Homo sapiens: one gene and its partner. The protein of the gene in region 1 purifies or fractionates together with the protein of each later gene. This does not show direct contact. Each region holds a gene or a part of one and is shown in the gene's direction. Other genes may lie near its edges. The genes, in order: CHN2 and MGA.

Region 1 (3,825 bases):
TTCATGGAGGGCAAGGACAGTGTCCAGCCTCTGGCCACCCAGAGGACATTCAATAAGCATGTGGTGCTCAGCCTCAAACTCTTTCCTGAATGACACAGGACACCAACAAATTGATTAAGTGAAACAGTGCTTGGATTGCATGAATTTATTAGAATCCTTCCCCACTTCTGGCTAAAACAAAAACTTCTTGTTACTTCTCTGAAAACTTGAATGCCACACTCTGAACTAATACCCATCATGCGTGAACTTCACAGAAATCTCCAATGCAGATGAGAGGCTGGAAGCCGTCCATGAAGTGCTGATGCTGCTGCCTCCTGCCCACTATGAAACCCTCCGGTACCTAATGATCCACCTCAAAAAGTAAGCTCATGTCTCGTGCACAAAGCCTGCTCTGCTCCTAGAGCGGTTAATGCATGAGGAAAAGTGGACGGCATTCCTCCCCAGCCATAACTGCTGGAGTTTCACTGTGCCAGGAACCACTCCAGGCACTTTCAGTGTATCATCCCTATGAAAGGGGCGCCACTGTGATGGCTCACGCCTGTAATCCCAGCACTTTGGGAGGCCGAGGTGGGCGGATCATGAGGTCAGGAGATTGAGACCATCCTGGCTAACACGGTGAAACCCTGTCTCTACTAAAAATACAAAAAAATTAGCCGGGCGTGGTGGCAGCCGCCTGTAGTCCCAGCCACTTGGGAGGCTGAGGCAGGAGAATGGTGTGAACCCAGGAGGCAGAGCTGGCAGTGAGCCGAGATCGTGCCACTGCACTCCAGCCTGGGCAACAGAGCGAGACTCCATCTCAAAAAAAAAAAAAAAAGAAAAAGAAAGGGGTGCCATTAGGGGCCTTGTGTCACTTGTGAGATTGCTGATGCCTGGGGAGGTTACACAGCTGATTTGAAGAGGTGAAGGCAGGATCCCAGGCAGGCTGATGTACAGCCTTTAACTACTCTGCCTCCGTGTCTGCATCTTCATCTGACACAAGCCCTGTACTCTGTGTCCTGTTCATCCCCCTGTTGCTTGCCCCTTTCCAGGCTCCTGAGACTGCCTGCCTCCTGGGAGAGCACATTCCCAGCCTGGTCTCTTATTTTTCTGGATGTGTGAGTTCTCTCTCATTGAGTAACAAATTGCTCCCGAAACTTAGTGGCTTAAAACTGTAAACATTTATTATCTCATAGTTTCTAAGGGTCAGGAATCCAGGTGTGACTCAGCTGGCTGCCTCCAGTTCAAGGTCTGTAATGAGGCTGCAGTCTTATCTGAAGGCTTGATGGGTCTGTAATCCCAGCTACTTGGGAGGCTGAGACAGGAGAATTGCTTGAACCCGGGAGACGAAGGCTGCAGTGAGCGAAGATGGCACCACTGTACTCCATCCTGGGCAACAGAATGAGACGCTGTCTCAAGAACAAAAAAATTCACTCCTGAAGGCTTGATGGTGGTAGCATCCATCTCCAAGCCCACTCACATGGTTGTTGGCAGGATTCAGTTCCTTAAAGGCTGTTGGACTGAAGGCCTCACTCCCTCACCAGCAGTTTGCTGGAGGCAACCCTCAGTTCCTTGCCATGTGCATTTCTCCATAGGCAGCTCACAAAAAGCCAACAGGCTTCTCTCAGAACAAAAAAGCAAGAGCACCCAATATGAGAGACAGTCTTTTTGTAAGCTAATCTCAGAAGTGACATCCTATTGCTTTTACCGTGTTTTATCTGTTAGAAGCAAATCAAGTCCATCCCATACTTTAGGGGAAGGGATGCAGGGTATGAATTCCAGGAGGCATGGATCGCTGAGGTCCATCTCAGAGAGTACCTGCCACACACACAGCTGTCTGCGTGAGTGTGTGGGAGACAGAGATGGAGACGTCTGGATGTTTATGGGACACTAGAACCTCTGGTGACACTATTCTCCCTAAACCTTGTGTCTCTCTCTTTCACTGCACATGTGTAATGAGGTCGATGAATTGGTGTTATAACATTGGAGGGATCAGGGCACATCTGTGTGCCTCTGTGTTTTTGAAAGATACTTGGCAGCAGCCCATTCTTTGATAAAAATAAAATGAACCGAAAATTGTCTACATTGACCAGTTTACAGATCTACTTAGTATGTGAAAAGAAGCAAACGGAGGACTGTATAAACAGTAGGTATTGAGATTTTTATTTTTCTACCTTATAAGACATACAAGAAGACATACAATATTGTTGCTCAGATTCAGGGTGATGGTAACATTTAGCTCAGAATATTCCCATTCTGATTAATTTACTGAATTTAGGAGTGCAAGTAATTTTTAGATAATAAACTATGGGTATCACATCTGGCTTTCAATTAGCTGTAAAATACTTATTGTGATCAATATCCAGTTGTTACAGTTTGGAAGGCAAAGTACCACTACCAGAAAAATGCTGACACCTTTCAGCTGAACCTTAAATGCCAATAATACTGTATCTTTATCATAGTGGGTTTGCCAGCCATCTTGTTTAGTCAGGCATAGTGCCTGACTTAAGAGGAAACTGTGGGCACTTTGATGGTGAGAAACGTCCTCTTTCCAACCTTCTTCTTAGGCTTTGTGGCATGTACATGACACAAACTGGGTTGACCTTAAAATAATACTCAATGGCTAATCCTAATGAGTTATAAGGAAATAGAAAGGGATGGCTTTTTATGCACAACCTAAACACATTTTAATTATATTTTCCTAAACACATTTTAATTATATTTTGCTCATTTTTGGAGAACCCATTCCCTTTTACATCTATTATGAACATTCTAAAACTTAAAGTTGTGAAAACAAAACTCTGGGAGATAGATAGATTGTAATTTTATTCCATGAGGAAGGTGTTAAACCAGCTTTGCAGTTTGAATTTTATTCTTAAAGGCTCTGCAGTTCTTACCTGGATGTCGAAATGATTTTTAATTTCAACTGCTGTAGACCTCATCCTGTGGGAACTAGAAATAATGTCCAACTGCCGTCCAGTCTGGCGACATTCCAGCCGTTCCCCCACCCCACGATAACGGCCTGACTCTTCCTCAATTCATGACAGCCCATTCTACACATAACCTTTCTCCTCTGGCACCGGTCCTCCCAGCAGAGAGGGATCCTGCCCTTCCCTTCCCACTCTCCAGCATACAGACCAGCAGGAAGCCACAAGAGGGAAAAAAAAAACGCCTTCTGTATAAGGCCTATGAAAGGACCATGGGCCAGCCTCAGAATCTGCTGCCCCTACAAACCAGTATTCCTCAAATGATAGTTCCACATTTACTTAATAAGGAGGACTAATTTTCTAATTTTAAAAATTGTGTTCCTGCCAGATTCACATAAGTAATTCATTTCCACCGGCGAAGGCAATGTCAACAATTTAAAACGAAAAATCAGTAAATTACCCTTCCAAAAATACCTTTCTGCTGTTCTGATTCCCAATCTTTTTCTTGCAATTTCCTGAACCAGAGATGTTATCGGGACTTACATACATAATCAATACATAAAATCAATCCTCAAGTCTCCATAATGTCTCTGTTCTATATGTTTGTTTTGCAGGGTTACTATGAATGAAAAAGACAATTTCATGAATGCAGAAAATCTGGGGATCGTGTTTGGGCCCACTCTGATGAGGCCCCCTGAGGACAGCACCCTGACCACCCTGCATGATATGCGGTACCAAAAGCTGATTGTGCAGATTTTAATAGAAAACGAAGACGTTTTATTCTAATCCATCAGGGAAATGAGCTGAATGGCCCCAGCACCATCCAAGTTGACACAGCTAAAGGAATAAAAACATTTCTTACCACTTGATTTGTTTTCCAAGCAAGTGCTAGAATTTCCTGGACTGCAGAGGATCGCTGAGT
Region 2 (3,825 bases), on another chromosome or scaffold:
TTTTTGCATGCATTCATTAAGCTTATACATTCTCTTTTGTGACTGTTAACATTCCACTCTATGGATGTGTCATCATTTGTTTTACCATTTTAAGGACTTCTCTCTTCCTGTCTAGTCTTTTGCTGTTATAAGTGGGAATGCAGGGGATAATCTTGTATAGATATCATTTATCACAGGTGTGTGTATTTAAAATAAAGTCCTATAGTGGGTTTTAACAGTGAATTAAGAAAACTTAAAGTCCTGGGAACAATTCTTTGTCATAGGATGATATATGGATTTGTACTTTTGATATTTTCAAGTTGCCCTCTCTTAGAGATTCTATTATTTTATACTCCCAGTAACTGCTTAGGGGAGAATGCTGGTTGACCTAACCCTTTCCAGCACTACCAGGCTTTGATTTTTGCCAGTCTGATAAGTAAAAAAACAGTATCTCAAGATGACTTTAATTTGCTTTCCTCTTAACTATGTACATATTCATAGCCATTTGCGTTTATTATCCTTTACTCATTTTTCTGTTAGGTATTTGGTCTTGTTGATTTGTAGGAAGCCTTTAAAAATTATTATTACTGTTAATGTATTTTTATTTTTTTTTTTGAGTCAGAGTCTCGCTCTGTCACCCAGGCTGAAGTGCAGTGGTGCCATCTTGGCTCGCTGCAACTCCACCTCCTGGGTTCAAGCAATTCTCTTGTCTTAGCCTCCCGAGTACCTGGGATTATGGGCGCACACCACCATGCCTAGCTAATTTTTTTATTTTTAGTAGAGACAGGGTTTCACCATGTTGGCCAGGCTGGTCTTGAGCTCCTGACCTCAAGTGATCTGACCTCCTTGGCCTCCCAGAGTGCTTGGATTACAGGCGTGAGCCACTGCTCCCCCGCCGCTATTATTTTTTAATAGAGACGGACTTTCACTACGTTGGACAGGCTGGTCTGGGACTCCTGACTTCAAGCAATCCTCCTGCCTTGGCCTCCCAAAGTGCTGGGATTATAGGTGTGAGTCACCATGTCCAGCCCCCTTTTTATATTAGGGAAAGGAGTTCTTTATAAGTTGCAAATACCTTTTCCTGGTTAGTTTGCTTTTTGATTTTGCTTAAATGATTTTGCCAGATTAAAAAATTTACAGAATATTAAATTTTATTTTATTTTTATTTCTTTGAGACGGAGTCTTTCCCTGTCACCCAGGCTGGAGTGCAGTGGCGTGATCTTGGCTCAGTGCACCTTCTGCCTCCTAGGATCAAGTGATTCTCATGCCTCAGCCTCCTGAGTAGCTGGGACTACAGGCGTGCACCACCACACCAGGCTAATTTTTTAATTTTTAATAGAGATGGGGTTTCGCCATGTTGGCCAGGCTAGTCTCGAATTCCTGGCTTTAAATGATCCACTGGCCTCAGCCTCTCAAAGTGCTGGGATTGCAGGTGTGAGCCACCACACCTGGCATCATATAGTATTAAATTTATCACTTTTTTTTTTTTTGGCCTTACTGGTTTTAGATTTTGTGTCTTATCAAAAAACTTTTCTCAGGATTTAGGAATAAAAAAATTAAATATTAGAGTCATCTGGAATTTATTTCAGTGTAAGGTCCATTGAGTTCCAGTGATTTGTCATGGCTTCTTTAAACGTGTGTACTAAGAAGTTAGATAGCTTTTTACTTATTTATGGAACCATGTCTTCTGAACCATATGAAGAACTAATTCTGTACAATTAGCTCTTTGGGATGAAAATGGAACTTTACTTATTTAATTTACTCATCACTGGGGAACTTGCTATATAAAGGAATCTTCTGGTAAATTCATAAAGTGTTAGGATGCTTTAAAAATGCATAACCTTCAAATTTAACTTTTTAATTTTGTATACTTTTTTAATAATGAATATACTCTTTTGTTTCTTTGTGTGAGATTATAGTATTTATAGTGAATTGTTAGAGGATTAGGATATAAGCACCTTAACTAATTAGATTAAAATGAACTTTAAAAAATGATTAGATATTCCAGAGTAAATATTCTTACTGTGATTGAAAGAAAAGCTTAGAAGCAAAGTCTTAGAAGAATTTAGGAATATTTTGGGGATAACATAATCGTTCTTGTATTTTTGTTCAAGAAATAAATACTCACTTGATTAAAGGGTGTTTTTTGTTTTTGGTTTTTTTTTGCTTGTTTCTTAGGATGGGAAGGCCATTGTGACTATGTGGTGATTACAGTTGTCTTACTACTGAGTTTCCTACTGAAATCATGGAGGAGAAACAGCAGATTATATTGGCTAATCAAGATGGTGGAACAGTGGCAGGAGCAGCACCTACCTTCTTTGTCATCTTAAAGCAGCCAGGAAATGGCAAAACTGATCAAGGAATTTTGGTTACTAATCAGGATGCCTGTGCTTTGGCTAGTAGTGTGTCATCACCAGTAAAATCTAAAGGGAAGATTTGCCTTCCAGCTGATTGTACTGTGGGTGGAATCACTGTTACCCTCGATAACAATAGTATGTGGAATGAGTTCTATCATCGAAGCACAGAGATGATTCTGACCAAGCAAGGAAGACGCATGTTTCCTTACTGTCGTTATTGGATAACAGGTTTAGATTCAAATTTGAAGTATATTCTTGTCATGGATATATCTCCTGTGGATAACCATCGTTATAAGTGGAATGGTCGTTGGTGGGAACCTAGTGGGAAGGCTGAACCTCATGTTTTGGGGAGGGTTTTCATTCATCCAGAATCTCCTTCCACAGGTCATTATTGGATGCATCAACCAGTATCTTTCTATAAACTCAAACTTACCAACAATACACTGGACCAAGAAGGGCATATCATCTTGCACTCTATGCATCGTTACCTGCCGAGGCTTCATTTGGTGCCTGCAGAAAAGGCTGTGGAGGTGATACAATTAAATGGCCCTGGTGTCCACACTTTTACCTTCCCACAGACTGAATTCTTTGCAGTAACAGCTTATCAGAACATTCAGATTACTCAGCTGAAAATAGATTACAATCCATTTGCCAAAGGCTTTCGGGATGATGGGCTGAATAATAAGCCCCAGAGAGATGGAAAACAAAAGAACAGCTCTGACCAAGAAGGGAATAATATTTCCAGTTCTTCTGGTCATCGGGTCCGTCTTACAGAAGGTCAGGGGTCAGAGATACAACCAGGTGATTTGGATCCTTTGTCAAGGGGTCATGAAACATCAGGCAAGGGTTTGGAGAAGACTTCCCTTAATATAAAACGAGACTTTCTTGGTTTCATGGATACTGATTCAGCACTTAGTGAAGTTCCTCAATTGAAGCAAGAGATTTCTGAATGGTAAGTAGTAGTTTTTCTGTTCTTAGAAATAAAAGGAAGATTGAGATGGGCCAGGTGTTGGATTTAACATCTTGGTTCTGTGGAATGCTACAGATGTTGATAAATGTAAGCCACTATAAAATATACTACAACTGCTTTTACATTCTGTGAAGTGACATCATTTTTCTGTAATGAGAATCAGTTGGGTTCAGGATCTAGAATTGTAGGCAAATTGGATAACTTATCAGAATTATTCATATGTATTTAGAATGTTCCTTGATATCCTTGGGGGATTGGTTCCAGGACCACCCAAGAATACCAACACCTGACTACATTTGAGACTCCATCTCAATAAAAAAAAGAAAATCATACCAATTATGACAACATAGATGAGCCTAGAGAATACTATGCTAAGTGAAATAGGCAAAACAAAAAAAGACAAATACTGCAAAATATTCATAAAAGTAGAAAGTAGAATGGTGGATGCCAGGGGGTAGAGAGAGACTGAAAGATGTTGGTCAAAGGGTACAAAGCTTCAGTTATGCCAGGTAAATTTTA

The links.
Region 2: the proteins of CHN2 (region 1) and MGA purify together in Homo sapiens (affinity purification with mass spectrometry, with the first as the bait; one large-scale study listed by BioGRID). This does not show direct contact.

The regions. Positions count from the first base shown.
Region 1 is NC_000007.14:29,509,047-29,512,871, forward strand, and holds part of CHN2 (beta-chimaerin), read left to right. Parts: intron 1-254; coding exon 255-360; intron 361-1,138; exon of another isoform or gene 1,139-3,517; coding exon 3,518-3,689; 3' UTR 3,690-3,825.
Region 2 is NC_000015.10:41,666,671-41,670,495, forward strand, and holds part of MGA (MAX gene-associated protein), read left to right. Parts: intron 1-2,157; 5' UTR 2,158-2,224; coding exon 2,225-3,288; intron 3,289-3,825. UniProt on the Homo sapiens protein: Functions as a dual-specificity transcription factor, regulating the expression of both MAX-network and T-box family target genes. Functions as a repressor or an activator.